7 linked regions of the Homo sapiens genome follow. The protein of the gene in region 1 interacts with the protein of each later gene in a pairwise test. Each region holds a gene or a part of one and is shown in the gene's direction. Other genes may lie near its edges. The genes, in order: MAGEA6, SNX4, CAMTA2, MORN3, ATPAF2, XRCC4 and NCK2.

What was found.
Region 2: the proteins of MAGEA6 (region 1) and SNX4 interact in binary tests that used the Homo sapiens proteins (3 or more experiments, as listed by UniProt).
Region 3: the proteins of MAGEA6 (region 1) and CAMTA2 interact in binary tests that used the Homo sapiens proteins (3 or more experiments, as listed by UniProt).
Region 4: the proteins of MAGEA6 (region 1) and MORN3 interact in binary tests that used the Homo sapiens proteins (3 or more experiments, as listed by UniProt).
Region 5: the proteins of MAGEA6 (region 1) and ATPAF2 interact in binary tests that used the Homo sapiens proteins (3 or more experiments, as listed by UniProt).
Region 6: the proteins of MAGEA6 (region 1) and XRCC4 interact in binary tests that used the Homo sapiens proteins (3 or more experiments, as listed by UniProt).
Region 7: the proteins of MAGEA6 (region 1) and NCK2 interact in binary tests that used the Homo sapiens proteins (3 or more experiments, as listed by UniProt).

The regions. Positions count from the first base shown.
Region 1 is NC_000023.11:152,766,694-152,771,435, reverse strand, and holds the start of MAGEA6 (melanoma-associated antigen 6), read left to right. Parts: upstream 1-1,746; 5' UTR 1,747-1,782; intron 1,783-3,510; exon of another isoform or gene 3,511-3,574; 5' UTR 3,575-3,640; intron 3,641-3,720; 5' UTR 3,721-3,785; coding exon 3,786-4,730; 3' UTR 4,731-4,742. UniProt on the Homo sapiens protein: Activator of ubiquitin ligase activity of RING-type zinc finger-containing E3 ubiquitin-protein ligases that acts as a repressor of autophagy. May enhance ubiquitin ligase activity of TRIM28 and stimulate p53/TP53 ubiquitination by TRIM28.
Region 2 is NC_000003.12:125,453,785-125,457,991, reverse strand, and holds part of SNX4 (sorting nexin-4), read left to right. Parts: intron 1-626; coding exon 627-726; intron 727-4,036; coding exon 4,037-4,182; intron 4,183-4,207. UniProt on the Homo sapiens protein: Involved in the regulation of endocytosis and in several stages of intracellular trafficking. Plays a role in recycling endocytosed transferrin receptor and prevent its degradation.
Region 3 is NC_000017.11:4,977,303-4,981,509, reverse strand, and holds part of CAMTA2 (calmodulin-binding transcription activator 2), read left to right. Parts: intron 1-150; coding exon 151-285; intron 286-888; coding exon 889-1,826; intron 1,827-2,879; coding exon 2,880-3,006; intron 3,007-4,207. UniProt on the Homo sapiens protein: Transcription activator. May act as tumor suppressor.
Region 4 is NC_000012.12:121,652,655-121,656,861, reverse strand, and holds part of MORN3 (MORN repeat-containing protein 3), read left to right. Parts: intron 1-2,428; coding exon 2,429-2,588; intron 2,589-3,602; coding exon 3,603-3,787; intron 3,788-4,053; coding exon 4,054-4,128; 3' UTR 4,129-4,134; intron 4,135-4,207. UniProt on the Homo sapiens protein: Assembles a suppression complex (suppresome) by tethering SIRT1 and MDM2 to regulate composite modifications of p53/TP53.
Region 5 is NC_000017.11:18,016,988-18,020,018, reverse strand, and holds the end of ATPAF2 (ATP synthase mitochondrial F1 complex assembly factor 2), read left to right. Parts: intron 1-1,332; coding exon 1,333-1,470; 3' UTR 1,471-1,998; downstream 1,999-3,031. UniProt on the Homo sapiens protein: Plays a role in the assembly of the F1 component of the mitochondrial ATP synthase (ATPase).
Region 6 is NC_000005.10:83,075,556-83,080,482, forward strand, and holds the start of XRCC4 (DNA repair protein XRCC4), read left to right. Parts: upstream 1-1,991; 5' UTR 1,992-2,060; exon of another isoform or gene 2,061-2,107; intron 2,108-4,927. Other genes in the region: TMEM167A (protein kish-A precursor), read right to left, coding at 1,766-1,768.
Region 7 is NC_000002.12:105,747,346-105,751,552, forward strand, and holds part of NCK2 (cytoplasmic protein NCK2), read left to right. Parts: intron 1-4,207. UniProt on the Homo sapiens protein: Adapter protein which associates with tyrosine-phosphorylated growth factor receptors or their cellular substrates. Maintains low levels of EIF2S1 phosphorylation by promoting its dephosphorylation by PP1.

The DNA.
Region 1 (4,742 bases):
CTTCCTAAAATCAACAGCAAACATACTTAAATGCAAAACGTTCGAATAATTATCATTCACGTCAGGAACGAGAAGTAGATGTAGGCTATTATCTCTACGATTGAAATCAGGATTGAGACACAAAGAGCTATAAGTACCAAAATGAGTAAGTGGTATGAATACTGGAAGAATATGTAATGTTTAGTGATAATACCATTATCGATCTTGAAAATTCAAAGGAAAAGGTATGTGGAATATTCAAGTGCATCGGCCTTCAGAACGAGGTGTGCAACAGATTACTACAGCAAAATCAAAATCTTCACCTCACGAAAGCAATAACTAACTACAACAATTAATAGACAATATGCCATTTGCAATAGCAACAAAATTCATGAATTGCCTGAAAAGAAGTCTAATAAAAATGTATAAGGTCTTTATAGAGACAACTGTCGAAGTATACTGACATATTCAGGTAAAAAAAACCTTGAAATACATAGAGGAGTATAATATATTCATTCATGGGGAGCACAACACTGTAAAAATGTAAACTCAGCTTAAATTATTTACAATTTAGTGCCTTACCTGTAGCCGCCGCCATTACAACAAATTTGGGCTGCTGTGCTCTGCTTCCCAAATCAAACCTGGAAAATTACAGAATGGAAACAGTAAATAAAAAACCAGTATCAGCAACAAAACAGGGAAAGCCCAGGGTGAGACTCAAGGCTGTGTTGAGCTGGTACTTGTGTTTGACACTTGCAGTGTTGGTTGGAGGGGGTTAGCAGCAGGGATGTTGGGGAGGTTTGTAGCCGGCCTACACGGTAGATGACAGAATGGGTAGAATAAAAGTTTGAAATTTTCCACTTCACTTCTTTGCACAATCTGAGGCAGCCTCTGAAAACACGATGCCAAGAGCCCTAGGTAATAGCAGGACACCAGGAAAATTTGGTTGGTTAAGGCAGTATGACTCCAGAGTTCTGCTAATAACAACCTGAAACCACCATAGTGGGAGAGGAATTACATTTTTTAAAAAAAAAAATTCTTTCAACAGAACACAAAGACTGAAATAGGAGGTCACTACAACCGCGGGAGCTGCCGCCCCGCCCTGCAGGGAGCACCTGGCCTGGGACCCGCAGGCATTCTCTACAAGGGGTGCAGCTGTGCAAATGCTCACAGGTGACAGAAACAGAGCATCTCCTGCCCATCACTTCATCCAACAGCCAGAGGTGACGAAAACGACCCTCCTGAGTGAGGACTGAGGGTCCACACCGCCCCCCCACCCCACACACCATAGAGGGACCACAGAATCCAGCTCAGCCCCTCTTGTCAGCCCTGGTAAACGCAGGCAGTGATGTCACCCAGACCACACCCCTTCCCCCAATGCCACTTCAGGGGGACTCAGAGTCAGAGACTTGGTCTGAGGGGAGCAGAAGCAATCTGCAGAGGATGGCGGTCCAGGCTCAGCCAGGCATCAACTTCAGGACCCTGAGGGATGACCGAAGGCCCCGCCCACCCACCCCCAACTCCCCCGACCCCACCAGGATCTACAGCCTCAGGACCCCCGTCCCAATCCTTACCCCTTGCCCCATCACCATCTTCATGCTTACCTCCACCCCCATCCGATCCCCATCCAGGCAGAATCCAGTTCCACCCCTGCCCGGAACCCAGGGTAGTACCGTTGCCAGGATGTGACGCCACTGACTTGCGCATTGGAGGTCAGAAGACCGCGAGATTCTCGCCCTGAGCAACGAGCGACGGCCTGACGTCGGCGGAGGGAAGCCGGCCCAGGCTCGGTGAGGAGGCAAGGTAAGACGCTGAGGGAGGACTGAGGCGGGCCTCACCTCAGACAGAGGGCCTCAAATAATCCAGTGCTGCCTCTGCTGCCGGGCCTGGGCCACCCCGCAGGGGAAGACTTCCAGGCTGGGTCGCCACTACCTCACCCCGCCGACCCCCGCCGCTTTAGCCACGGGGAACTCTGGGGACAGAGCTTAATGTGGCCAGGGCAGGGCTGGTTAGAAGAGGTCAGGGCCCACGCTGTGGCAGGAATCAAGGTCAGGACCCCGAGAGGGAACTGAGGGCAGCCTAACCACCACCCTCACCACCATTCCCGTCCCCCAACACCAACCCCACCCCCATCCCCCATTCCCCATTCCCATCCCCACCCCCACCCCTATCCTGGCAGAATCCGGGCTTTGCCCCTGGTATCAAGTCACGGAAGCTCCGGGAATGGCGGCCAGGCACGTGAGTCCTGAGGTTCACATCTACGGCTAAGGGAGGGAAGGGGTTCGGTATCGCGAGTATGGCCGTTGGGAGGCAGCGAAAGGGCCCAGGCCCTCCTGGAAGACAGTGGAGTCCTGAGGGGACCCAGCATGCCAGGACAGGGGGCCCACTGTACCCCTGTCTCAAACCGAGGCACCTTTTCATTCGGCTACGGGAATCCTAGGGATGCAGACCCACTTCAGCAGGGGGTTGGGGCCCAGCCCTGCGAGGAGTCATGGGGAGGAAGAAGAGGGAGGACTGAGGGGACCTTGGAGTCCAGATCAGTGGCAACCTTGGGCTGGGGGATGCTGGGCACAGTGGCCAAATGTGCTCTGTGCTCATTGCGCCTTCAGGGTGACCAGAGAGTTGAGGGCTGTGGTCTGAAGAGTGGGACTTCAGGTCAGCAGAGGGAGGAATCCCAGGATCTGCAGGGCCCAAGGTGTACCCCCAAGGGGCCCCTATGTGGTGGACAGATGCAGTGGTCCTAGGATCTGCCAAGCATCCAGGTGAAGAGACTGAGGGAGGATTGAGGGTACCCCTGGGACAGAATGCGGACTGGGGGCCCCATAAAAATCTGCCCTGCTCCTGCTGTTACCTCAGAGAGCCTGGGCAGGGCTGTCAGCTGAGGTCCCTCCATTATCCTAGGATCACTGATGTCAGGGAAGGGGAAGCCTTGGTCTGAGGGGACTGCACTCAGGGCAGTAGAGGGAGGCTCTCAGACCCTACTAGGAGTGGAGGTGAGGACCAAGCAGTCTCCTCACCCAGGGTACATGGACTTCAATAAATTTGGACATCTCTCGTTGTCCTTTCCGGGAGGACCTGGGAATGTATGGCCAGATGTGGGTCCCCTCATGTTTTTCTGTACCATATCAGGTATGTGAGTTCTTGACATGAGAGATTCTCAGGCCAGCAGAAGGGAGGGATTAGGTCCTATAAGGAGAAAGGTGAGGGCCCTGAGTGAGCACAGAGGGGATCCTCCACCCCAGTAGAGTGGGGACCTCACAGAGTCTGGCCAACCCTCCTGACAGTTCTGGGAATCCGTGGCTGCGTTTGCTGTCTGCACATTGGGGGCCCGTGGATTCCTCTCCCAGGAATCAGGAGCTCCAGGAACAAGGCAGTGAGGACTTGGTCTGAGGCAGTGTCCTCAGGTCACAGAGTAGAGGGGGCTCAGATAGTGCCAACGGTGAAGGTTTGCCTTGGATTCAAACCAAGGGCCCCACCTGCCCCAGAACACATGGACTCCAGAGCGCCTGGCCTCACCCTCAATACTTTCAGTCCTGCAGCCTCAGCATGTGCTGGCCGGATGTACCCTGAGGTGCCCTCTCACTTCCTCCTTCAGGTTCTGAGGGGACAGGCTGACGTGGAGGAACAGAGGCCCCCGGAGGAGCACTGAAGGAGAAGATCTGTAAGTAAGCCTTTGTTAGAGCCTCCAAGGTTCCATTCAGTACTCAGCTGAGGTCTCTCACATGCTCCCTCTCTCCCCAGGCCAGTGGGTCTCCATTGCCCAGCTCCTGCCCACACTCCCGCCTGTTGCCCTGACCAGAGTCATCATGCCTCTTGAGCAGAGGAGTCAGCACTGCAAGCCTGAAGAAGGCCTTGAGGCCCGAGGAGAGGCCCTGGGCCTGGTGGGTGCGCAGGCTCCTGCTACTGAGGAGCAGGAGGCTGCCTCCTCCTCTTCTACTCTAGTTGAAGTCACCCTGGGGGAGGTGCCTGCTGCCGAGTCACCAGATCCTCCCCAGAGTCCTCAGGGAGCCTCCAGCCTCCCCACTACCATGAACTACCCTCTCTGGAGCCAATCCTATGAGGACTCCAGCAACCAAGAAGAGGAGGGGCCAAGCACCTTCCCTGACCTGGAGTCTGAGTTCCAAGCAGCACTCAGTAGGAAGGTGGCCAAGTTGGTTCATTTTCTGCTCCTCAAGTATCGAGCCAGGGAGCCGGTCACAAAGGCAGAAATGCTGGGGAGTGTCGTCGGAAATTGGCAGTACTTCTTTCCTGTGATCTTCAGCAAAGCTTCCGATTCCTTGCAGCTGGTCTTTGGCATCGAGCTGATGGAAGTGGACCCCATCGGCCACGTGTACATCTTTGCCACCTGCCTGGGCCTCTCCTACGATGGCCTGCTGGGTGACAATCAGATCATGCCCAAGACAGGCTTCCTGATAATCATCCTGGCCATAATCGCAAAAGAGGGCGACTGTGCCCCTGAGGAGAAAATCTGGGAGGAGCTGAGTGTGTTAGAGGTGTTTGAGGGGAGGGAAGACAGTATCTTCGGGGATCCCAAGAAGCTGCTCACCCAATATTTCGTGCAGGAAAACTACCTGGAGTACCGGCAGGTCCCCGGCAGTGATCCTGCATGCTATGAGTTCCTGTGGGGTCCAAGGGCCCTCATTGAAACCAGCTATGTGAAAGTCCTGCACCATATGGTAAAGATCAGTGGAGGACCTCGCATTTCCTACCCACTCCTGCATGAGTGGGCTTTGAGAGAGGGGGAAGAGTGAGTCTGAGCACGA
Region 2 (4,207 bases), on another chromosome or scaffold:
TCTCACATACATTAAAAAATGTTTTATGTATGTGATAATGGCATGTTTATTGAAAGAAATGTTCCAAGTATATGGAAAACAACTTTTTTTGTGTTAAGAATATATGACGTTTTTGGCCGGGTACAGGTGGCTCATGCCTGTAATCCCAGTACTTTGGGAGGCCGAAGTGGGTGGGTCACCTCAGGTCAGCAGTTTGAGACCAGCCTGGCCAATATGGAGAATTCCCATCTCTACTAAAAATACAAAATTAGCTGGGTGTGGTGGCGCATGCCTGTAATCCCATCTACTAGGGAAGCTGAGGCAGGAGAATCATTTGAACCCGGGAGGCGGAGGTTGCAGTGAGCCGAGATCGCGCCATTGCACTCCAGCCTGGGCAACAAGAGCAAAACTCTGTCTCAAAAAAAAAAAAAAAAAAAAAAGAATATATGAAGTTTTTATGGTTAGGTTCTGCTAGATTCCATTAGATTCCATTTTTAATGTTGGGCTACTACATTTTAAACTTGAAAATTCTGGGCACACACATTCTGCCCTAGCGAGACATTGTGAATGGTTCTCCTCTACCCTTGAAAAAAATGTTTGACATGTTAAAGGAAAAGTTAAATGGCAGCACATTTTTTCATCTGTAGGGCTGTGTGCAGGAAACATGAACTTATGCAGTATGACTTGGAGATGGCTGCTCAGGACTTAGCATCCAAGAAGCAGCAGTGTGAGGAACTGGTAACTGGGGTGAGTATTTTCCTTTTGGCCTCTGATGATACTGTAGCAACACGGAATGTTCCTCACAAGCACTCACTCTGAGTGAGTAACTCACTCCTGTAGAATCAGTTCCAGTTACAATACTCAGGACGGCTGAACCTTTTACAGGGGAATAATTTGTGAGTAACTTTATAATTCTTTTATTATTATCTTGATACAAAATGATGTAAGCCATTAAAACCATGTACTGTATAGAATTATAAGAAATTTTGCCAACATTTCTCTGGTGTAATCAGTATCATCCGGTTTCGTTTTAAAAAAAAAAAAAATTATTGGGCTGGGCACGGTGGCTCACACCTGTAATCCCAGCACTTTGGGAGGCCAAGGCCAGTGGATCACCTGAGGTCAGGAGTTCGAGATTAGCCTGGCCAACATGGTGAAACCCGATCTCTACTAGAAATACAAAAATTAGCCAGGTGTGGTGCCTCACGCCTGTAGTCCCAGCTACTCGGGAAGGTGAGGCAGAAGAATTGCTTGAACCAGGGAATCGGAGGTTGCAGTGACCCGAGGTCACGCCACTGCACTCCAGCCTGGGTGACAGAGCAAGACTCCATCTCAAAAAAATTGTTTTTATTAATTTTTATTTTTTGAGACAAGGTCTGGTTCTGTTTCCCAGGCTGGAGTGCAGTGGTATGATCAGGGCTCATGGAAGCCTCAAACTCCTGGGATCAAGTGGTCTTCCTGCCTCAGCCTCTTGAGTAGTTGGGACCACAGGCATGTGCCCCCATGCCTGGCTAATTTTGTTTATAGTCTCATCATGTTGACCAGGGTGGTCTCAAACTCCTGGACTCAAGTGATCCTCCCACCTCCGCCTCCCAAAGTGCTAGGATTACAGGGGTAAGCCACCATGCCTAGTCTATCATCTGGTTTCTAAGTCCAAGTGAAAAAACATGCAGTGACCTTTATCAGGTTTAACTTTGCAAGGTACTTTGCAGAAATTTTAGTTGACTTTGAAAAGCCTTACCCACTTAGAACCAGTGCATCTCGCCTAACAGGGAGCTTTTGATGTACTTTATTCTTTAATGCTTACAGTGAGTACTTGTGAGGAAAATTCTGTACCTGATTGCATTAGTCTTGGATCATTTTTATAATCAGCTTTCTACTCCAGTTATTTCATTGCAATAAATCAGCCATCATGGTGAGCAACACACATTCTGAAAGTAGTAAACCAGCAGCAATGTCTCTACTTAGTTAATAAGCACTGTAGTTTTTGTTTGTTTGTTTGTTTGTTTTTAGACCGAGTTTCGCTCTGTTGCCCAGGTTAGAGTGTGGCTCACTGCAAGCTCCACCTCCTGGGTTCACACCATTCTCCTGCCTCAGCCTCCTGAATAGCTGGGACTACAGGCGCCTGCCACCACGCCCGACCAATTTTTTTTTTGCACTTTTAGTACAGACGGGGTTTCACCATGTTAGCCAAGATGGTCTGAATCTCCTGACCTCGTGATCCGCCCGCCTCGGCCACCCAAAGTGCTGGGATTATAGGCATGAGCCAGCGCGCCTGGCCAAGCACTATAGTTTTAAAAGTGCTTTTCACAGAGATTACCCACTGGCTACATCTGTGAAAAGTCACAGATATATGTGGGGAAAGACTTGTGACCAGGACACATGTATAAACTAGGCCCTTGGTTTATTTTTAAAACTCAGTGGGAGAAGTTCCCAGGCCATTTTCAGGGAGCTTGGTTCTCTATCCTACATGTCAAGGGAAAAGTGTTTTCTTCAGTAAACTCCAGAGAGTGAGGAAATGTTAAAGCAGTGAAGCTTGGGGTTGCCTTCCCATGCTTGGATTTAGGTATCCTGTTTTATTAATAGATGCCCAAGTTTGAGCGTTGAGTTATGCAGATTTTAAATATGCTTCTTTAGTTTGGTTTATTTCCATAGTTGCCTAGTGAATTTATCGACTTTTTTTATAACATAAAGTAATTTTTAAAATATCATTCATACAGAGTAAGAAATAACGTCTAATATTTCACGTGGAAGTTTTCCATTTGATTATGAAATTCAAGCCGGGTATGGTAGCTTACAATGGCAATCCCGACACCTTTAGCAGCAGAGGCGTAAACCCAGAATTGCTTGAGCCCAGGAATTTGAGACCAGTGTGGATTAATATAGCTAGACCCTGTCTTTACCAAAAATTTAAAAATTAGCTGGGTGTGGTGGCATGCACCTGTGGTCCCAGCCACTTGGGAGGCAGAGGTGGGAGGATCACTTGAGCCCAGGAGGTTGAGGCTGCAGTGAGCCATGATTGTGCCATTACATTCTAGCCTGGGCAACAGAGCAAGACCCCATTTCAAAAAAAAAAAGAAATTCAGTTAGAAGTGTCTTCTTTTTGACTACTCCATATTATTTCAGTGTTAGAAATTCTATTAGGATTCTTGGCTATGACTCTGTAAAAATAAATAAAAACTCATATAAGAGATCCCTGGTTGTGAAGCTTATGGTGGTTTTGTCTGACTTAGGGGAAATATGGCAAATGTTTTCTATTTCCTTTGTGTGTGTAGTGAAATATATATAACATAAAATGTACCATCTTGTCCATTTTTAAGTATATAGTTCAGTAGTGCAGTCATCCCTCAGTATCTTCAGTGAGATTGGTTTAAGGATCCCTGGGATACCAAAATCCTCAGATGCTTAAGTCCCTTCTATAAAATGGTGTAGTATTTGCATGTAACCTGTGCATATCCTTTTGTATACTTTAAATCAGCAGTCGCCAACCTTTTTGGCACTAGGGACCTGTTTTGTGGAAGACAGTTTTTCCATGGACCAGGGCAGGGGGTGCTGAGGATGATTTCGGGATGAAACTGTTTCATTTCAGATCATCTCAGGCATTAGATTTTCACAAGGAACACACAACCTGGATCCCTCACATGCGCAGTTCACAATAGGGTTCGTGCTCCTAAGAGAATCTAATGCCTCTGCTGCTGATCTGACAGGAGGCAGAGCTCAGGTGGTCGCTTGCCTCCTGCTATGCAGCCTGGTTCCAAACAGGCCATGGACTGGTATCACTCCGTGGCTCTGGGGTTGGGGACCCCCTGCTTTAAATTATCTCTAGATTATTAATACCTAATACAGTGTAAACACTGGTGTCTCATATAAGTGGAATCATACAGTATTTGTCTTTTTGTATCTGTCTTATTTCACTTAGCATAATGTCCTGCAGGTTTATCCATGTTGTAGCATATATCAGATTTGATTCCTTTTAAAGGCTGAATAATGTTCCATTGTATGTGTATGTGTATGCCGCATTTTGTTTATCCATTCATCTGTTTCTGTTTCCTTTTAGACTGTGAGAACATTCTCTTTGAAGGGAATGACTACCAAGCTCTTTGGTCAAGAAACTCCAGAGCAGAGAGAAGCCAGAATAAAGGTGCTAGAAGAACAAATAAATGAAGGAGAACAACAGCTAAAGTCTAAAAATCTGGAAGGCAGGTAAAGATGCTGCGATGTTTAAGTA
Region 3 (4,207 bases), on another chromosome or scaffold:
AAAGCAACATATCTGAGCAGTCTTGAGGCTGCTGGCCTCTGTTCACCTGGCCAGAAGTCTTGAAGCATGTCAGGTGCTTGGAGGAGCCATCAAGGTACTCTGGGGCCTGTTTCGTGGGGATCCCACAGCACTTCCCCCTAACTTCTCTAGTTCATGGCATCAAGTGGAGCTGCGGGAATGGAACAGAAGAGTTCTCTGTAGAACACCTGGTGCAGCAGATTTTGGACACCCACCCAACCAAGCCTGCTCCCCGAACCCACGCCTGTCTCTGCAGTGGGGGGCTTGGTAAGTTACTCCCTGACCTTTTGGCTGTCTTCCCACCTAGCCACACTGCTCTTACGCAAGCCAGGGGGATATCCATCTTGATGGGATTTGCATGCTGATTTGCAAGTCTTTTGCATGTCCCAGAAAGATGGGCCAGATGAACAGACGTTCCCATCTGGGTGCACACTGGCTCGGAATCAGCCTTGCACTCAGCTGTCATGGCAGCCTCTGCCCTTCCTGTCTTCTACCTTCAGCAATTCCTGTCCCCTCAGCACCACCAGTGACACCCAGCCTTAGCCTTCCTCCTAGTTGGCACCCCCTTGGTTCTGTTCTTTTGTCCTTTTCCTATGCCTTTAACTTTTGCTTTTAGCTACTCTCCCAAGCCCTCAGTTCTCTGGAGCGTTCCTCTGGTCCTGCTTGTTTTGAGGGGAAATGGAGAGGGGGAGGGGGAATAAAGGGTAGGGGTAGAGAACAGACATTTCTGATGCCTCCCAGTGGCTACAATCAGTATTACACCTCTGGTTTATAGGGACGTCCCAGGAAATACTTTTAAGGGCCTCAAGGTAGAGAAGGTGCGGAATGATGTGTCTTATCTCCTCTCCCTCCTACTCCTCTCCACTCCAGGTTCTGGGAGCCTTACCCACAAATGCAGCAGCACGAAACACCGCATCATCTCTCCCAAAGTGGAGCCCCGAGCTTTAACCCTGACCTCTATCCCCCACGCTCACCCCCCAGAGCCTCCTCCACTGATAGCCCCACTTCCCCCAGAGCTCCCCAAGGCACACACCTCCCCATCTTCTTCCTCTTCTTCCTCCTCATCAGGTTTTGCAGAGCCCCTAGAAATCAGACCTAGCCCTCCCACTTCTCGAGGGGGTTCTTCAAGAGGAGGCACTGCTATCCTCCTCCTGACAGGACTGGAGCAGCGGGCTGGAGGCTTGACGCCCACCAGGCACTTGGCTCCACAGGCTGATCCTAGGCCTTCCATGAGTTTGGCAGTGGTTGTAGGCACTGAGCCTTCTGCCCCACCAGCTCCTCCCAGTCCTGCCTTTGACCCTGATCGTTTTCTCAACAGCCCCCAGAGGGGCCAGACATATGGAGGGGGGCAGGGAGTAAGCCCAGACTTCCCCGAGGCAGAGGCCGCTCATACCCCCTGTTCTGCCCTAGAGCCTGCTGCTGCCCTGGAGCCCCAGGCAGCTGCTCGGGGTCCCCCACCACAGTCAGTAGCAGGTGGGAGAAGAGGAAACTGCTTCTTCATCCAAGATGATGACAGTGGGGAGGAGCTCAAGGGTCACGGGGCTGCCCCACCCATACCTTCACCCCCTCCCTCACCCCCACCCTCACCTGCCCCCTTGGAGCCGTCAAGCAGGGTAGGAAGAGGAGAGGCCTTGTTTGGAGGACCTGTTGGGGCCAGTGAACTGGAGCCCTTCAGTCTTTCATCATTCCCAGACCTTATGGGAGAACTCATCAGTGACGAAGCTCCAAGCATCCCTGCTCCGACCCCCCAGCTGTCTCCTGCTCTTAGCACCATCACAGACTTCTCCCCAGAGTGGTCCTACCCAGAGGTGAGACTCAGGCTTACCTCCTCCCTCCTCCCTCCTATTTGTCTTCTGACTCCCCAAAACAAATTGTATTAACTCTTACCCCGTGGTCTGTGACCTAGTTTCCCTCAGTTTTCATGGCTTCTTAGGCTTCTTAGTCCTCTACCTAATCTCTCTCTTTTTTTTTTTTTTTTTTTTTGAGACAGTTTCGCTCTTGTTGCCCAGGCTGGAGTGCAATGGCACAATCTTGGCTCACTGCAACCTCCGCCTCCCGGGTTCAAACGATTCTCCTGCCTCAGCCTCCTGAGTAGCTGGGATTACAGGTGACCGCCACCACGCCCGGCTAATTTTTGTATTTTTAGTAGAGATGGGGTTTCACCATGTTGGCCAGGATGGTCTCAAACTTCTGACCTCAGGTGATTGCCTGCCTCGGCCTCCCAAAGTGCTGGGATTACAGGTGTGAGCCACCGTGCCCAGCCGCCAATCTCTTTTTTTATGTAGAGTGAAGCTGCTTTCCTGTTTCCAGAGTCCTCAGCAACTTAACCTTTTTTCTGTTCCTCTCCCTTCCATGTGTTAGCATGGTTTCTGGAGTCTCCTAGGACCTCATTCCCTTCCTGACTGTTTTCAGGGGTAGGGAATTGGGGCTGTGCAGCCTGGAGAAGAAAAGAAACATCAGGGATGTGATTGCAGACTTTGAGTAGCTGAAAGACTGTCTTCAGCAGTGGAGAAGTTCTGTTTTATGCTGCCTTTGAGAGGAAAAGGAGGAAGTACAGTGGGGGTGAATTAGCCCAAGAACAGAACTTCCTTCTGGTGACAGCTCTGTGGTAGCTTTGGGGGAGGCCCTGAATTCCCAGCTACTGGCAGATTCAGGTAGAGACCAGGCAACCACTTGGCAGGAATGTTGGGGAGAGATAGACTCACTGACCTCACCCCACTGGGTCCTGTCTATCCCTGGACCCCCAGACTCTAGCACAGGACCTGCCATATAGTAGATACCCTGTAAGGGTCTGAATAAATGAATGAGTGAGGGGATGAACGCCCAACTCCAGTCACATGGTCTCTGACTTCTGTCTGCAGGGTGGGGTCAAGGTGCTCATCACAGGTCCTTGGACCGAAGCCGCCGAGCATTACTCCTGTGTCTTTGATCACATCGCAGTGCCAGCCTCACTTGTCCAGCCTGGTGTCTTACGCTGCTACTGTCCCGGTATGAGGATTGGGAACCGTAGGGGGAGGGACTGACATGTGGGCAGTTAGGACAGATCAGGACCTCCAGGCTTCCAGAAAGCACTGGGAACAAATGGGTTGTTTTGAGAGCACAAGGACTTCATCCAGTCCTGAGGTTGAGCCCCAAGCTCTCCCAGCAGGCAGAAGAGCCCAGACTTAGGTGTCAGAAGATCGAGGTTCTGGTCCAAGAAGTCTACTCCTTAGCTAACCAGTGACCTCAGATGAGTCTGATCCTTCCTGAGGTCCTTGGCCTCCTCTCCTGTAAGGTTAGGCATTGACCAAAGGGATTTCTAATGTCTGTCCAGGCTTTCTGGCTTAGAGCCAGAGTCTCCAACTCCAATCCAGGGGGAATGAGAAAGAAGAAATGTGGGTTTCCTCTAACCAGTCTTGGGACTGAAGGACATTGGCTTTTAGAACTGTGCTGTCCAGTATGGTAGCCATTAGCCACATGTGCCTATTAATTAAAGTTAAAGAATACTTAAAATTCACTTCCCCAGTCTCACTGACCATGTTTCAAGTGTTCAGTAGCCACACATGGCTCGTGTTACCCTATTGGATAGTGACGATATAGAACATTCTTGTCACTGCAGAAATGTTCTATTGGACAGCACTGGTCTAGACTTCATTGCCAAGGTTCATCTCTGCCCTTTTGCCACCAGCTTTGCCCTTACCCTACACTCAAAAATCAGCCTTACTAGGGGACCTCAAGGACCACCAAAGTGACAGGTTGGCAGCTTTGCTGTCTACGAGTGTGTTCTCCCCCAGTCTCTACAGCAGCATCCAGCATGTGTGTAAGGAAAGGGGATGAGACCAGAGAATCTGGGGACTGGGAGAAAAAGTCTCAGCACCTGGTCTTAGGATCAGGGCCTGCTGGTTCCATGCTTATGGCCACTGGACACTGTTCATGAGCGGCTAGCTCCCCTTTCCTCCATCTCAGTAACAGGGTCATAACTTCCAGACTCTGATCCGGGGATCAAGAGGATTTTCCAACATCAAATTGTTCATAACTAGTCTCTTGACCCTCAGTTTCCAAACCTTCTTGCTGAATAACAAATATCTTCAACTACAGGGTCTAGAATCCAAGGGATCTCTGGCCCATAGTACGTATTAAGTTCTCAAACAAATGGACTCCCTTCCCAGTTAGTGCCAAGGCCACTGAAGCCAGGGGCCTCTTGGCCCAC
Region 4 (4,207 bases), on another chromosome or scaffold:
AGGAAGGTCATCAAGCCCAGCCTAGAGAATTCAGGACAGAAGGCTAAGCACAATGGCTCACGCCTGTAATCCCAGCAATTTGGGAGGCAGACAGGGGTGTATCACTTGAGGTCAGGAGTTCGAGACTAGCCTGGCCAACATGGTGAAACCCCCGTCTCTACTAAATAAAAAACACAAAAAAAATTAGCCGGGCATAGTGGTGTGTACCTGTAGTCCCAGCTAGGGAGACGGAGACATTAGAATCGCTTGAAGCCAGGAGGCAGAGGTGGCAGTGAACCGAGATCACGCCACTGCACTTCAGCCTGGGCAACAGAGTGAGACTCCATCTCAAAATAAATAAATAAATAAATAAAACTATATAATAATAATAATTAGCTAGATGTTGTGGTGCACATCTGTAGTCCCAACTTTTCAAAAGGCTGAGGCAGGAGGATTGCTTGATCTCAGGAGGCTGAGGTTATAGTGAGCTATGGTGGTGCCACTACACTCCAGCCTGGACAACAGAGCAAGACTTGTCTCAAAAAGAGGGAATTCAGGGCAGGCTTCCTGTAGGAGGTGACACTAAAAGATGCTAGGAGTTAGCCAGGAAGAAAAAAAAGGGAGAAAGATGGGAGGCAAAAAAATAGCAAAGGGAACGAGATGTAAAACAGCAGAGTGTGTCTGCCCTGGGACAGGAGTGAGGAGAAGAGTTGCGGGGGCCCTCAGGGATATGTGGGAAATCAGGATTTTGAGGAGTAGACTTGGCTTCTCAACCCAACCTCCTCGGGTGTGATCTGCAAACAGACCTTGTTTCCCTGTGGTTGGACACTAAGTGTGGTGTTTTTTGTTTTTTGAGACGGAGTCTTTCTCTGTTGCCCAGGCTGGAGTACAGTGGCGCGATCTTGGCTCACTGCAAGCTCCGCCTCCTGGTTCACGGCCTTCTCCTGCCTCAGCCTCCCGAGTAGCTGGGACTACGGGCACCCACCACCACACCCAGCTAATTTTTTTGTATTTTTAGTAGAGACGGGTTTTCACCATGTTAGCCAGGATGGTCTCGATCTCCTGACCTTGTGATCCGCCTGCCTTGGCCTCCCAAAGTGCTGGGATTACAAGCGTGAGCCACAGCGCCCAGCCTAAGTGTGGTGTTTTTTGTTTGTTTGTTTGTTTGTTTTTTGAGACAGTCTTGCTCTGTTGCCCAGGTGGGAGTGCAATGGCACGATCTGGGCTCACTGCAACCTCCGACTCCTGGGTTCAAGCAATTCTTCTGCCTCAGCCTCCCAAGTAGCTAGTATTACAGGTGCCCACCACCACACTCAGCTAATTTTTTATATTTTTAATAGAGACAGGGTTTTGCCACGTTGGTCAGGCTGGTCTAAAACTCCTGACCTCAGGTGATCCATCTGCCTCGGCCTCCCAAAGTGCTGGGATTATAGGCGTAAGCCACCACGCCAGGCTAAGTATGGTGTTTATGTTCATTTTTCTGGGTCAAAATAAGAGTGGGAGGGGGGCGAGCATGATCAGATGGGCGATTTTTTTTTTTTTTGAGATAGCGTCTCACCCTGTCACCTAGGCTACCGTGCATTCTCAGCTCACTGCAACCTCCATCTCCCAGGTTCAAGTGATTCTCCTGCCTCAGCCTCCCCAGTAACTGGGATCACAGGCGCCGCCATCACGCCCAGCTAATTTTTTGTATTTTTGGTAGAGATGGGGTTTCACCATGTTGGCCAGGCTGGTCTCAAACTCCTGACCTCAAGTGATCCACCCACCTCAGCCTCCTAAAGTGAGCCGGTGAGCCACAGCGCCCAGCCTAGATGGGCGATTTAAAGAGTCCTCCGGCGCTGTAGGGGCTGCATGGCGCATGGTGTGGTGGGGATGAGAGAGGAGAGGGTGGGTCAGTAAGGAGGGAGTTTAATGACTGGCTGCATGGAGGCGCCAGCAGAGGGACAGAGAGAAACAGAGCATGGGGAGATCCTTCAAGACATTATCGGTGGGCACTATGGCTCACACCTGTAATCCCAGCACTTTGGGAGGCTGAGGCGGGCGGATCACTTGAAGTCAGGAGTTCAAGACCAGCCTGGCCAACATGGTGAAACCCTGTCTCTCCTAAAAATACAAAAATTAGCAGGGCGTGGTGATGCGTGTTTGTAATCCCAGCTTCTCGGGAGGCTGAGGCAGGAGAATCACTTGAACCCGGGGGACGGAGGTTACAGTGAGCCGAGATCACATCACTGCACTCCAGCCTGGGTGACAGAGTGGATCTCTGTCTAAAAACAAACAAACAAACAAAAAAGACAGGATACTCCGCTAAGACACGACCCTCCGCTTGGACGTAGGGCTGAGGAAGAAGGAAGAAGCTGGGGTGTGTGGCTCTAGGGGTGCCTGGGAAGACGGTGGGCTTTCCTGGTGGTGTTGGGGGGCGCCCTGAGTAGTAGCATCTTCGTACTTTCAGGGTTATGGGATCCAGTTTTTCGGACCCAAGGAGTATTATGAGGGTGACTGGTGTGGCAGCCAGCGCAGCGGGTGGGGCCGCATGTATTACAGCAACGGCGACATCTACGAGGGACAGTGGGAGAACGACAAGCCCAACGGGGAGGGCATGCTGCGCCTGAGTGAGTGCCCCACCCCCGCCGGCCCCGCCCACCCGACCACGCCCCCGGCAGCGAGCTGGCCACGCCCATTTGGTCCCACAGAGACAGGCCACACCCCACACTCTTGTCCCACACTGACCCTTGTGTCAATGTGGGACAAGAGAGGAAGAGCACCCTATCTCTCCCCTCAGTCACAAAAGGTCACATATATATGATGCTATTTATATGAAATTTTTAGGACACGCACCTCCACAGAGACAGAAAGTAGACTAATGGTTGCCTAGGACTATGGGGGTGGTGACATTAGTGGGTGTGGGGAATGGCTGCTTAATGGGCACAGGGTTTCCTTTTCGGGTGATTAAAACGTTTTGAAACTAGATAGAGGTAATGGTTGCACAGCATTGTGAATGTACTAAATGCCACTGAACTATACACTTCAAAATGGCCAACTTATGTTATATGAACTTATATCTCAATTTTTAAAAAAAAAGCCAGGCGCAGTGGCTCATGCCTGTAATCCCAGCACTTTGGGAGGCAGAGGCGGGCGGATCATGAGGTCAGGAGTTTGAGATCAGCCTGGCCAACGTGGAGAAACCCTGTCTCTACTAAAAATACAAAAAGTAGCTGCATGTGGTGGTATACACCTGTAATCCCAGCTACTCAGGAGGCTGAGGCAGGAGAATCACTTGAACTCGGGAGGCGGAGGTTGTCACTCAGGCTGGAGTGCTGTGGGGCAATCTCAGCTCACTGCAGCCTCAACTTCTTGAGCTCAAGCCATCCTCCCACCTCAGCCTCCAGAGTAGCTGGGACTATAGGTGCACACCACTATGCCCAGCTAATTAAAAAAATTTTTTTTTTTGCAGAGATGTGGTCTCACTATGTTGCTCAGGCTGGTCTTGATCTCCTGGGCTTATGAGCCTCCCATCTTGGCCTCCCAATGTGTTAGGATTTGCACTGAGCTCTGGAAGAGCGACCCCTGGGGGTCTAGCTTAGTTTGGTGTACCCTGCACCACACCTCCCTGTCCTTTCCCCCAGAGAACGGGAACCGCTACGAGGGCTGCTGGGAGAGAGGCATGAAGAACGGGGCGGGGCGTTTCTTCCATCTGGACCACGGCCAGCTGTTTGAAGGCTTCTGGGTGGACAATATGGCCAAATGCGGGACGATGATCGACTTTGGCCGTGACGAGGCCCCTGAGCCCACTCAGTTCCCCATTCCTGAGGTGGGCAGCCCTCACCAGGGCCCTGTGGCCACACCCAGACAGAGACAGAAGCCAGCATCCCCAGCCATGCCCAGGCCAGATCTGCCAGGCCCAGCCAAGCCCAGACAGGGAACAGACAAGGTTTTGTTTTCAGTCAGGGCATCCCTAGCAAGGGAGGTGGCTCCTGATGAGGCTGGCAGCACCCCACACGGCAGGCAGCGCCAGTCAAGGCTGGCAGCCTGGGTCCTCCATGCTCTCCAAACCAACTTCTTGGTATTTCCCTCCAGGTCAAAATCCTAGACCCTGATGGTGTGCTGGCGGAGGCCTTGGCCATGTTCAGGAAGACAGAGGAAGGAGATTGATGCCAGGTGAGGGGTGGGCACACCTGCCAAGTTCTGATGTGGCTGAGGCTGCTCCAGGGCCCAGAACAATGCACAGATC
Region 5 (3,031 bases), on another chromosome or scaffold:
AAGGAGGCCCGCTACTATTCTCTGGATGTCAGAACTGATTACATAGGAAGGGGGTGACTTGTAGGGCTGGTGGGAAGCCAGTCTGGGCTCTGCTTCTGACTATGGGACCCAAGCCAGGCCATCATTCTCTGAACTTTGGTTTCGATCCTCTACAAACAGAGGAATAACCTGAATTATGTATGTGATGGTATACAATGAAAGTATGGAATACTCTTCAGATGACATATTACAATTGTACAGTTTGGGACCAGGCAGCCCAGAAGTTCAAATAGCTTGTGTAGCATGGTGGATTCTGAGTTCCTGGATGAGCTGGGGCGGCCAGGCCAGGCCTCTTGGGCAACTAGCCAGGGAGGAGCCAGCAAGGTTTGGTTGGACTTACACTGTCTGGACAGCCACATCGTGTGTCTGAGCGTTCCTCCCTCTTGTTTTTAGAGCTCCAGACAGAGAATCTGCAACTTGTCCCCAGTGTGCAGAGCAGAGGCATCTGTAGTTCTGTGACTACCACAAGAGTCAGAGTTGAAGCCACTGCGTGGCCTTACTTGATTTAGTTATTCCACCCACATGGCGCTGGGGGGCACTTGTAGCCCAGCATGGCAAGGCAACTTGGAGAGGCTGTCCATTCACAGGCTTTCTGGGAGGAAGTGTAGGAGAAGGGATGGCACATAAGGCCTCCTCAAAGAAGTCACATGGGTGGTTCTGGTACCCAGCCTGCCCAGTGGTGGGTGGGCAGCCACTGGCCCTGGGCCTGGGCCTGGACTGCACTTCTTCCAGACCATCCATGCCACAGAGAGCACAGGTGCCTGCTCCGGCTCCCTGGGGGTGGGGTGGTGGGGTGTGTGTGTGTGTGTGTGTGTGTGTGTGTGTGTGTGTGGTGTTTTTGAGACAGGGTCTTGCTCTGTTGCCCAAGTGGGAGTGCAGCGGTGTGATCTTGGCTTACTGCAGCTTCAGCCTCCTGGGCTCAAAGCAGTCCTCCTACCTCAGTCTCTCAAATAGCTGGGACTACAGGTGCACCCCCACCACACCCAGCTAATTTTTAAACCTTTTTGTAGAGGCGAGGTTGCACCATATTTGCCCAGGCTGGTCTTGAACTCCTGGATTCAAGCAGTCTTCCTGCCTCGGTCTCCCAGAGTGCTGGGATTACAGGCGTGAGCCACCGTGTCTGGCGTACCTGGGTGTTCTTACCTGCCACCTCCCCCTAGGCATGTCTCATGTGTTTTGGCAAGATACAAACCTGTTGCCCTCAGCCAACCTATTGGAATGGAACGTGGCTTTGGTCAGGAGGCAGCCAGGCACTGGCCACTCACCCAGCAACTTGTCTTGTCCTTCCCTCAGATCCAGAAGTGGGGCAACATTGAGTGGGCCCATGACTATGAGCTGCAGGAGCTGCGGGCCCGCACCGCCGCCGGCACCCTCTTCATCCATCTCTGCTCCGAGAGCACCACAGTCAAGCACAAGCTCCTGAAGGAGTGAGGCCTGGGCAGAGCACACTCAGCAGGATAGAGGCAGTGCAGCCACAGCTCCCCCGGCCTTCAGGGCTCCCCAGCCTGTGGGGCTGGCTTCCTTGGCTTTTGGGGACTCGGCCTCAGCGTCACCCTGAGATTCCCCCCGAGACACAGTGCGCTAGTACGGCTGTCCGGAGGTCAGCCTGATTTCAACCCAGGTGCCCCTGGCCTGGCCAGCAGTGAATGTAGGAGATGAATTGTGCAAGTGACTTTCTCTCGACTCTGATTTTATTAAATATTTCTCCACCCTGGAAATGTGCTGAGCCCTGTTTTCACGTATGCCTCTGCACTTCTCCATTCTTCCTGTTTTGTCTAGGTTCCAGAGGGTTAAACAGCTTATCTCCCATGGCGTGTTTGGATATCTGCTGCCTGTGGTCAGGAACCTTGCACTGGGGAAACAATCATGTAATCCACAGACAACTCTATTTGTGTTCTTCAGCCTCAGCCTGAAGGCTTTTTTTTGGCTGGCTTTTAATCAAACAATCTTTTGAAACAATTGTGGTCTAAGCTGGTTGTTTCTATTTGTTCCTACTGTTCTAAAACAAATGATTTACTCTAGAAAGTAGAAAATAGAAGTTGTTTCTGGGCTAAAAGCCTGGACAGGCTTGACAAGGTCACCTGATGTGCATGTTTCCGCTCATCTCCCACCCAGGAGTCCTAAGGGTCCTCCTGACATAGCCACCTCTAGTGTCCCAGGAGGCAGGCGCTACTTTCTGGTGTCAGGCCAGTAAGAGGGCAGGGGGGAAGAGTGGTTCTCAGGCAGACAGGCTCTCTCAGCCCTGTGTCCTTGCCAGCCTGAGTAAGGTAATGGCATCAACCCTGCTCACAGGGCACTGATCGCATGCTGGGTGCCTCTCCACGCTTCCCATGCACTGTCTCCCTGAACTGTTCCTCGAAGGCACTGTGAGGTACTGTCACAGATGACACCAGGGCTGCGGGGGTGACATGGTGGAGCTGGGATGCCCTGCCTGCACTCTGCTCTTCTGGAGGGTCCTCAGGTCCTTGTGGCTAACCTCAGCCTTGGTGGGCAGGCCCAGGCCCCAGCACTGTGGTGGGAGCTGCAGCCTCTCCTCCTGCTTCCCTGCCCCTCAGCACCCAGAGCAGAGAAGGTCTTAGCCCACACCGGCCTCCTTTTGCCTGTGGCTGGCAGCCTGCCTAGGCATGGCAGGGGAAACGGCAGGGGCACGTGTCTGACTTTATGCCACAGCCAAGAATCTAGCTGATGGCAGTGCCCTTGGGAGTTGCTCTGTCAGCTGGCCTGGGACCGGCTGTTCATCTCAAACTCTTTCTCTTGTTCCTACATGAACATTTTTTTTTTTTTTTTTTTTTTTTTTTTTTTTTTTTTGAGACGAAGTCTCGCTCTGTCGCCCAGGCTGGAGTGCAGTGGTGCGATCTTGGCTCACTGCAACCTCCGCCTCCCAGGTTCAAGTGATTCTCCTGCCTCAGCCTCCTGAGTAGCTGGGATTACAGGTGCACGCTACCACATCTGGCTAATTTTTGTATTTTTAGTAGAGACAAGGTTTCACCAT
Region 6 (4,927 bases), on another chromosome or scaffold:
CCAACATGGTGAAACCTCGTCTCTACTAAAAATACAAAAATTAGCCAGGCGTGGTTGTGCACGCCTGTAGTCCCAGCTACTCGGGAGGCTGAGGCAGGAGAATTGCTTGAACCCAGGAAGCAGAGGTTGCAGTGAGCTGAGATTATGCCACTGCACTCCAGCCTGGGCAACAGAGGGAGACTCCATCTCAAAAAAAAAAAAAATCATTAAAATACAGTAATTCAGGTTTATTAAGTCATTACCATTGGGTTACCTCACAAATAAACTAAGTTTAGATGCGAACTCAAAGATACTGAGACACTAATCCATTTCTTAAGCTGCTAAGTTAGCCTTCTTGAAACCTCACTTCGTAGCTCTGCAAACAATGTACTTTTGACATCCCAAGCTCACAGGAATAAAAAACCACCTGCCAGTTGTTTCCGTTTTCCACCTATGTCTAATTTATGTACTTATATTTATAAGAAACAAATCACTAAGTCTTATTTCATCCTTAGTTATGTTGTGTTTCTATCGATAACAGCATGAAGATTTCGGGGACCTGGACATTAAAATAAGTTTGAGTACTGGCTTTACAATCTACTAGGTGTGATCCGAGGCAAGTCAGTCTCTTCATGTTTCACTTCTTTCACTTGTAAACATCTATTCAGAAGTTGCTGTGAACTTGATATTTCCATGCTTATAAACTGATTTTTTGAAAAGAGCCTGGTACATAGGACGTGATAATAAATGAAAGCATTTGCTACTTTTGGAAAAACAAGCATGACAAGATAGTTTATATACTGTTGATCTTAAGCACAGTATATGCATCTTATTTTTAGCTAGTCTGACAGTGAGATAATAAAAAGAGTTATCTTTGACTTGCACTACGAGTAGAAGAATTCAACTTCAGTTTCTAGAAAGATGTATAAGAATTAAGAGTGGCAGTCTTCCTAGTCTCAACTGCCATCTTCCCACCAGGTGGTAAATTCGTCCAGAGAAGAAAATGAATTATTGCTATATGGGATTCTGCAGCAACTTCTGTGAACATAGGCTCATAATTTTTCACCATGGAGACTCAAGCTTTTTGGAGTCATAGTTGTTTTTGGGTCTATTTGCAGGCATGCATCCTTTGTCCAGAAATATACATAACATTTGGCACATGGACCTGGAGGTAAAAGAGGAGGAAGGCCTGAGGCTAGACACCACTCCAATAAGTACATTAAGCTCCTAGAAGGGCAATCCACCTTTGCAGAGAACTCTTAACTATTAAAACCTATAGCTTGTAAAGCAGCATTTTCAAAGTTAAGAGAAGAAGGTGGAAGGGTCTTGAGAGGCTACTGACTAAACAGATGAAAATGAAGGTATGGAGTTTGGTGCCAAAAGAAACTCCCCCCAAAAATCAAACAATAACACCAGAGTAAAGCCCCTAGGGCGAGATAAGGAGTTGCAACAAAACAAGCGGAAACTCGAGAAGCGCTAATGCTTCAAAGGGTCAATGACCACACATAATCTACGTAGCCAACGTGTTAAAACACACCAACGCATTTTTTTTTCCTAAACAAAGTAGGAAAGCGGACTTTGCATGAGGGGCGGGCTGCCGACCCAGCAGTCTTCCTCGGACAGTCCGTCCTGATTCTCTCTGGTTGGCCGTGGAGGGACCACATGGCTCCAAGGCCTCTCAGCTCCGGGCCCACACACCCCGGGCTGCCGCACAAACTCCAGCCCTAGTCTAGATCCACAACCCCTTCTCGAAGATCAACCGCGACCTGGGAGCCCCACTTCTTACCATAGCGAGGCCGGCGATGCCGCAGCCACATCACCCTTCCGGGGCTCAGGCGGAAGAGGCTGCATGTCCCGTCTGCCCTTCTCGCCCTCTCCAGCCGTCCGGTTGGGCTTGTCACGGCACCGCCTACCAAGACGGGCGGTTAAGACACTAGGATAGGCTCCTCTCCACCGGAAAAGGCGGGATTTAGATCACGTCCCGCAGGCCGGCGGAAGTAGCTGATACTCTCATTGGTTGCAAAACCTTGATCTGTGAAAGCGGGCGTTTTGGAAGATACCGGAAGTAGAGTCACGGAGAGGTAGGATCCGGAAGTGGGGCTGCCTCTTTAAATAACAAAAATCTGAGGTTCTGTTCTTTTTATCTTTTTGCTTTCTTTTTAAAAAAGTTCCCTGCTACTTACCCCTAGAACTCCACAATGCGAGAATCCCCCTCAATTTGTGAGCTCCCGCGACTTCCTCTTGTGGGCTTTTGGGGATGCTAGGGTTCTCGGCATTATCCTCAGGGTGCGACCTGTTCACCCCCTTTTCAGTTTCTCCGTTTGCATCTGAGGGATTCTTGGGAATGCGAAGCACTTTTGAAATGCTCTGTGTTGGTTGTGGGATTGGGAGGACGGTTGAATCCAGAGGGTAGTGTTGAGTAGGCTGTTTGAGCATTTCCCCAGCACTGGCCTGTCCTTTCAATCCCCAGATATTGGTAAACTGTGGGTTCCAACCAGGCATCGAGGCTGAAACGTACTAGGCAATTTGAGGTCAGGAAAGAACTTTCTGTGGTAACCAATGGGAAGGAACTGCCGTTTGCGGACTGCAGCGATTGATTAGGTACTTTAAAGAGATCAACTGGCAAGACAAATGACAAGGCAACTTTTAATCAGTAGTAGTATTTAGCTTTTTCTGATTTTAATTATCCCATTAGGTGAGGTTCTACTACACACACACGTTTTTCTTTCTGCATTTTATCGATGGAGAAACAGGCGCTTTGACATGTTTGAATTTGCGTAGTTCTTGGAATTCTAATAAAGTATTAGAAATGAGAGTTTTTCACTCTTTGCCCCCTTATGGCAAGCTTTTGGTTCTAAATGTGTGGTGTATTTTTTCTCAGGCAGGAGAGAGTTCTTTTCAGAATGTTTTCAATTTTTTATGGACTTAGAAGGTGGATAGAGAGAAAGAGAGAAGGTAACTCACGTGAGATTTTGGTTTATGAACTGTATTCGGCCTATGAGACCCTTTTGTATTTAGGGCAACACAATGATTAGAAGATTTGGGATTCTGCTATTTGTGTTTACATTGTTCACTAGGGCACACAAAGGTTTTGTTTTAAACTATAACTAACTTGATATTTGAGTCTGTTATATTGAATTGTCAAGAGTTGGTCAAATACACAAATTAGCAAGTATTTACTGGGTGCCTGCTTTATTCATGGATCTTCAGATTGCAGCATAGGAACAAAGATGGTCTGTTCCTTTAAGGAATTTAATAAGGTTGGGGGAGAGGGGAATAAGAAAGGTATTTAAAAGATACAGTACTCTCCACCTAAGGATAAAAAAAGTCTTTTAATGTTCTGTCTTGTAATTCCTTTATATTATACCTTTTAGGTCTTGCCATTCAAATTAAACAAACCTGGTTTAGTTATGGAAATTATGTTGTGCAATTTATCGAGCTTGGCTTTTAGGGCAGTAAATGTGTCTGTAGACATAACTGCCCTTGGTTTCATGTGAAGATTGTCTTGATCTTTGTTACATATAAAGGTAATACTTCTGTATGAAGCTCTGCTTCAGGCTACCTGTGAAAAGCATCAGAAAGCTTAACTTGTTAGAGATCACAATTGATTTGCTATATCTATATATTTTAATTAATTTTAGGCTATGACTTCTTATGTACCTGAGCTTCAAAACAGTAAAGAACGGCATTGCCAGTTTTTAAGTTATCTATAGAGAAACACATATGCCAATAAATGAGGCTGAACAAATATGTATAATGTTTATTGCATTTATGTAAAACATCAAAGTTAATCTGACGTGGTGAGTTTTTTTTGGGAGGTGGTAGTTTAGCTCCATTGTCTTACATAAACCCCCTACTTTTTGGTTTTCAGATTATATCACAATTTCTAAAATCTTTCTGGCAGCTTTGCAGTGAATCCTCATTTAAAACCATCTTGGATCCTTTCCTTACTAGAAATAAAATCTGTCTGTGTTATTCCTTTGTTCAAAAATTATTATTTATTTTTATTTTTGAGACAGGATCTTGCTCTGTTGCCCAGGGTGGAGTGCAGTGGCACAATCATGACTCACTGCAGCCTCAACCTCCAGGGCAGAAGCGATCTATCCTCCTCCCTCAGTATCCCCAGTAACCGGGACCATGGTTGCATGCCACCATACTTGGCTAATTTTATTTTATTTTTTGTAGAGACAGGGCTCACTATGTTGCCTAGGCTGGTCTCAAACTCCTGGGCTCAAGTGATCCTCCCGCCTCGGCCTCCCAAAGTGCTGGGATTACAGGTGTAGGCCACCGCACCACGTCTGGCCTGTTCAAAAAGTATTATCTCACCTGCATCTGGAAGAATATTTCCAACTTTGGTTTCATGGGTATATTAAAATCGTATGTAAAAATAGTGGATATTTGTAGTTTTCTGTGGCGCCAGTGCACAGGTGTCCTCAGTGTTATGAGGATTACATGAGTTATTACAAGTAAATCATCTAGGCAAATGTTTGGCATACAGTAAGCACTCAGAAAGTGTTGGCTATTACTGTGCATGGCTTTGTCTTTGCTAAATTAAAAGTCCCTGGAGAGGAGGAATTATAATGGAGGAATGGTTGAATTGCATATATTAGGCACTAAATACAGTAGTCCCTCCTTATCTGAGGTTTTGATTTCTGCAGTTTCAGTTACCCATGATCAACCACAGTCTGAAAATATTAAGTAGAAAATTCCAGCCGGGTGCGGTGGCTCATGCCTGTAATTCCAGCACTTTGGGAGACCAAGGCGGGCAGATCACTTGAGGTCAGGAGTTTGAGACCAGCCTGGCCAACATGGTGAAACCCCATCTCTACTAATATACAAAAATTAGCCAGGCGTGGTGGCATGTGCCTGTAGTCCCAGCTAGTCAGGAGGCTGAGGCAGGAGAATCAATTGAACCCGGGAGGTGGAGGCTGCAGTGAGCCGAGATTGT
Region 7 (4,207 bases), on another chromosome or scaffold:
TTTTAAAATACCCTAAGACTCCCGGAATGGCGCAGAATGCACTGGAGTCCTTTACTTGATCAGTTGCACTAGCTTAGTTTGCCCTGGATAGACCAGGCTGCGAGGCTCTATGGGACACCCATTTTTCTAACTGCTCAAACTGGCTTGCCGTGTGCACTGGGGGAGACAGGGCTTGCGGAAATCATTCTCTGACATTAAAAATGAGGCTTAAAGACTGAAGAGCTCAGAATTGCTTGCTGGAACTACAGGGGAGGATGATGAGTGATGTTTGGAAAAACAAGTAAGCTAACTTTTTTCACAAATGAACTGGAAACTCCCTACAGCTCACTTCAGATGCTTAGGAAATTAGTTTTCCCATCCAGAGGGTTTGCGAGTGGCACTTCCAAATGGTTTCTGTTTCCTAAAATGAGTGATGGAAATACTTCACGGCACGTTTTCAAAGGGCCTAAGCTAAAATGTGATTTCGTGTATCTTGTTCCATGCCTGAGTTAAGGCAACTCAGAAGAAGGTCGTGACGGCCTTTTAACGGGCTATCAAAAGTGTGCAGCTAAAGCAAAAACAGTTTTGCATTTCTTTAGGCCATTTAGTAGCACAATTAAAAAATTAGACTCTTTTCTTTTCCTGCATTTTCCTTTGAACATTTCCCAAAGTATGTTTATTTCTAAAGGTAAATGAACGTTAGCAAGTATTACCTCTGCCCAGTGACACACATCCACATGTGTACTGGCACATACATTCCTACCTCAAGAATCTTAGTCCTTGAAACTGTGGAAATGAAAGTTATTTTGATTGAGGTAGCAGTGTCACAGTGATGTCATACGGTGTCACTGTCCCTGACCAGCCTCTGTGTTCCCTCTCAACTCCTTGGCTCAGTCTCCTCCGTGTCCTGAGTTCTTACTCATCCCAAGGGTCGTCTCTTACTTCTTTTCTTCCCCACATCTTATCAACTCCAAACTAGAGGGGATGGCATCATCTTTAAACTTCCACAGCACTTTCTTTGTGTCCCTGATTTGTCATCTGTGACATTCTTTCCTGCAGTTGTTTTTTTTCTTTTTTTAAGGCAGGGTTTCACCCTGTCACCCAGGCTGGAGTACAGTAGCATGATCACAGCTCACTGCATCCTCGAGCTTCTGGGTTCAGGCAATCTTCCCACCTCAGGCAATCTTCCCACCTCAGCCTCCGAGTAGCTGGGACTACGGGTGTGCACCACCATGCTCAGTGAATTTTTTTATTTTTATTTTTATTTTTATTTTGTAGAGACAGGGTCTTGCTGCTTTGCCAAGGCTGGTCTCAAACTCCTGGGCTCAAGTGAGCCTCCTGCCTTGACCTCCAAAAGTACTGGGATTACAGGCCAGAGCCACCATACCCTGCCCTATGGTTTTTTTGCCTTCATCTTTTCTTTACTAGATTCTGAACCGCTTGGGGGCAGACTGGTCTTGCCACTTATACACAATGAGTGTGCAACAAATACTTATTGAATATGTGAATAATGAGTGCCCAGCCTGTTAATATTGGGGCTCTAGCCTCCCACTGAGATTCAAGTGGTAAGAGACCTCCAGCATTCTTGTAAATCTCAGAACTTCTGTCTACTGTGGAAGGCTTTGACCTCAGGATGTCCAGACAATGGGAGAATTTGGTCTGTTGGCCTCTCTATTTGGCAAATTTTCTGTCATGTGAGTCATTTGTAGTCCTGAAGCTACATTTAAAAACAACAACAGCAACAACAACAACAAAAAAACAAAGCCAACCCCATACTCAACTGTATTACCTGGTGGGCTGGCTGAATGGTTTACTTTTGTAGGTTAGTCTGTTCCTATCAACCTGAATTCAAAACGCTGGGCAGACCGTTTGTGATCCTGGCCTGGTAAGTTAGTTATTTGTGTCACCCCTTCTTTCTACTGTTGTATTGGTAATGTTTTTAAGAGAAGAAGCTTCAAGTGCACTCAGAATTTTAAGTATTGCAGTTGCTTCTTTTGAGACAATTTTGGAAGCTGGGGTGCTTACGTTGCCAAATTGTTAGTGAAGACCGAAAATGCCATGATGAGAGAATGACATGTACTAATGCATGCACGCTCATTCATTGTTTGCAAAGTCCTCTTCACATACACCATCATATTTAATAGTCGAATAACATGGTGCACTTGGTTCTGGCCCTCATTTCTAGGTAGGAGACTGGGGATGACAGAGCTTGAATTTAGGTTAAGTCCTTCTGCAGGCCATACATGAGGAACACCAACGTGTTGCTGGGTAGAGTTGTTTTTTTGTGAGGCAGTTTACAGAACACAGTGTCCTTGGGTATCTGCCTTTGCCGTGTCGCAGCTGTGTGTAGATATTGGTGGAGCAGATTCTGGATGTGAGTTGACTGAGGTTGAGCGGTGTGAGGGGAGGCCGGCAGGAGCAATGTCAGTCTCTCTTGTCCCCACATCCTGGTTATGGGCCAGGGTTACCCTGGAAAGCCTCCTCAAGTTCAGAAAGCTTATTCCTGTTTAGTGCGTGTATTAGTCAGCTCCAGCTGCCTTAAGAGAATAACACACAGAGGCCGGGCGCAGTGGCTCACGGCTGTAATCCCAGCTACTCGGGAGGCTGAGTCACGCGAATTGCTTGAACCCAGGAGGCGGAGGTTGCAGTGAGCCAAGATCACACCACTGCACTCCTGGGTGACAGCGTGAGACCCTGTCTCAAAAGCAAACAAACACACACACACACACACACACACACACACAAAACAACAACAACAGAATGGGTGGCTAAAGCTGCAGACATTTATTTTCTCACAGTTCTGGAGGCTGGAAGTCCATGACCCCGGGGCCGGCAGGGCTGGTTTCTGGTGAGTGTCTCTTCCTGGCTCGTCTTCTTGTGTCCTCACTCACGTAGCCTTCCTTCTGTGAGTGCACTGAGAGAGAGGTCTGGTGTTTCTTCCTCTTATAAGAACATCTGTCCTGTTGGATGAGGGCCCCACCCTTATGGTGACCTTTTTTAACCTTATTTATGACCTTTTTTAACCTTAATTGCCTCCTGAAGCGTCCTGTCTCCAAATATAGTCACTTAGGGGTTAGGGCTTTACCATATGAATTTAGGGTGGACAATTCAGCCACTCCCAGTGTGTCTGTCTAGGTTCCACAACAGGGCTGATGCTTTTAGGAAGACCTGGTGCTCCCATCATCCAGATCTGGGATCTCTGTTTATTTGGGGACACCTACCAGGGATGGTTAGAGTAGTCACAAGTAAGGAGGGAACGTCAGCTCTTTATATATTGGTTGTAGCACCCCATAACAGGGAACAAGCCTTGGTGCTGGCCTTCCAAAGGCTGGAAAGGTTTTAAGTAGAGTGATTGAAGAGAGAGAAAAATCTTGACTTGATTTCATTTATGGAAACTTCTCTTCAACTTAGGTAGGTAGACACTTATTTGGGGGTTGGTTTGTCTTTAATTGAGACCATGATAAAATATCAGTGATATGCAAAGGAAAGTTTTTTCTGAACCCTGGATGAAGAGAGCAAAGCAAGAGGTGGGGCCAATGGCAGCCAGGGTGGAGAGGCCGTCTCCTCTGAGCCTGCCATCTCTGTGATCGTGCAGTCTTTGCCACATGAGCAAACATCCCTTAGCAGAATGTGCATGACGGTGGTGAGGTGCACCCTGAGCGTGGCTGGAATGTTTCTGACCTAGGCCATTTTGCCTTGTTCAGACATAAGGCAGGGGCAATGCCTGCATGACTGACCTCCCTCTAGCTCCAGATCTGTATGTTCATTGATGCTTTGTTTGCTCATTCATTCACATTCATATGAATTATCCAAGTTCTTAGTGGTCATTTCCACCATCCCAAACCATTTGCAGCTTCTCCTGCAACCTGCCCGCCTTCTCAGTTATATTCCCCATCACCGACTCACTCGGTTATCCTTGAATTCTCCCTCAGCTCCCAACTAGTTATCAACCCCTATTGATTCTACCTCCAAAAGATCTAACATCTCAGCCCTGCTGTCCTTTTTCTGTTTCCCCTGGACATCAAAACCACTTTTTAACCATTCCTGCCAATCCATCCCAGGGTGACTGCACCCTGACAGTCAGGTCTGGCCATGACCTGCACACGGTGGCTCTCCATCGTACTTGGGTCAGTGACTCAAGTCCCCAGCATGGCAGTCATGGGCTTGCACGACTGGGCTGCCTCTCTGTTTCTCCCAGCATCTAAATATCCCCTTCCCCATATACACA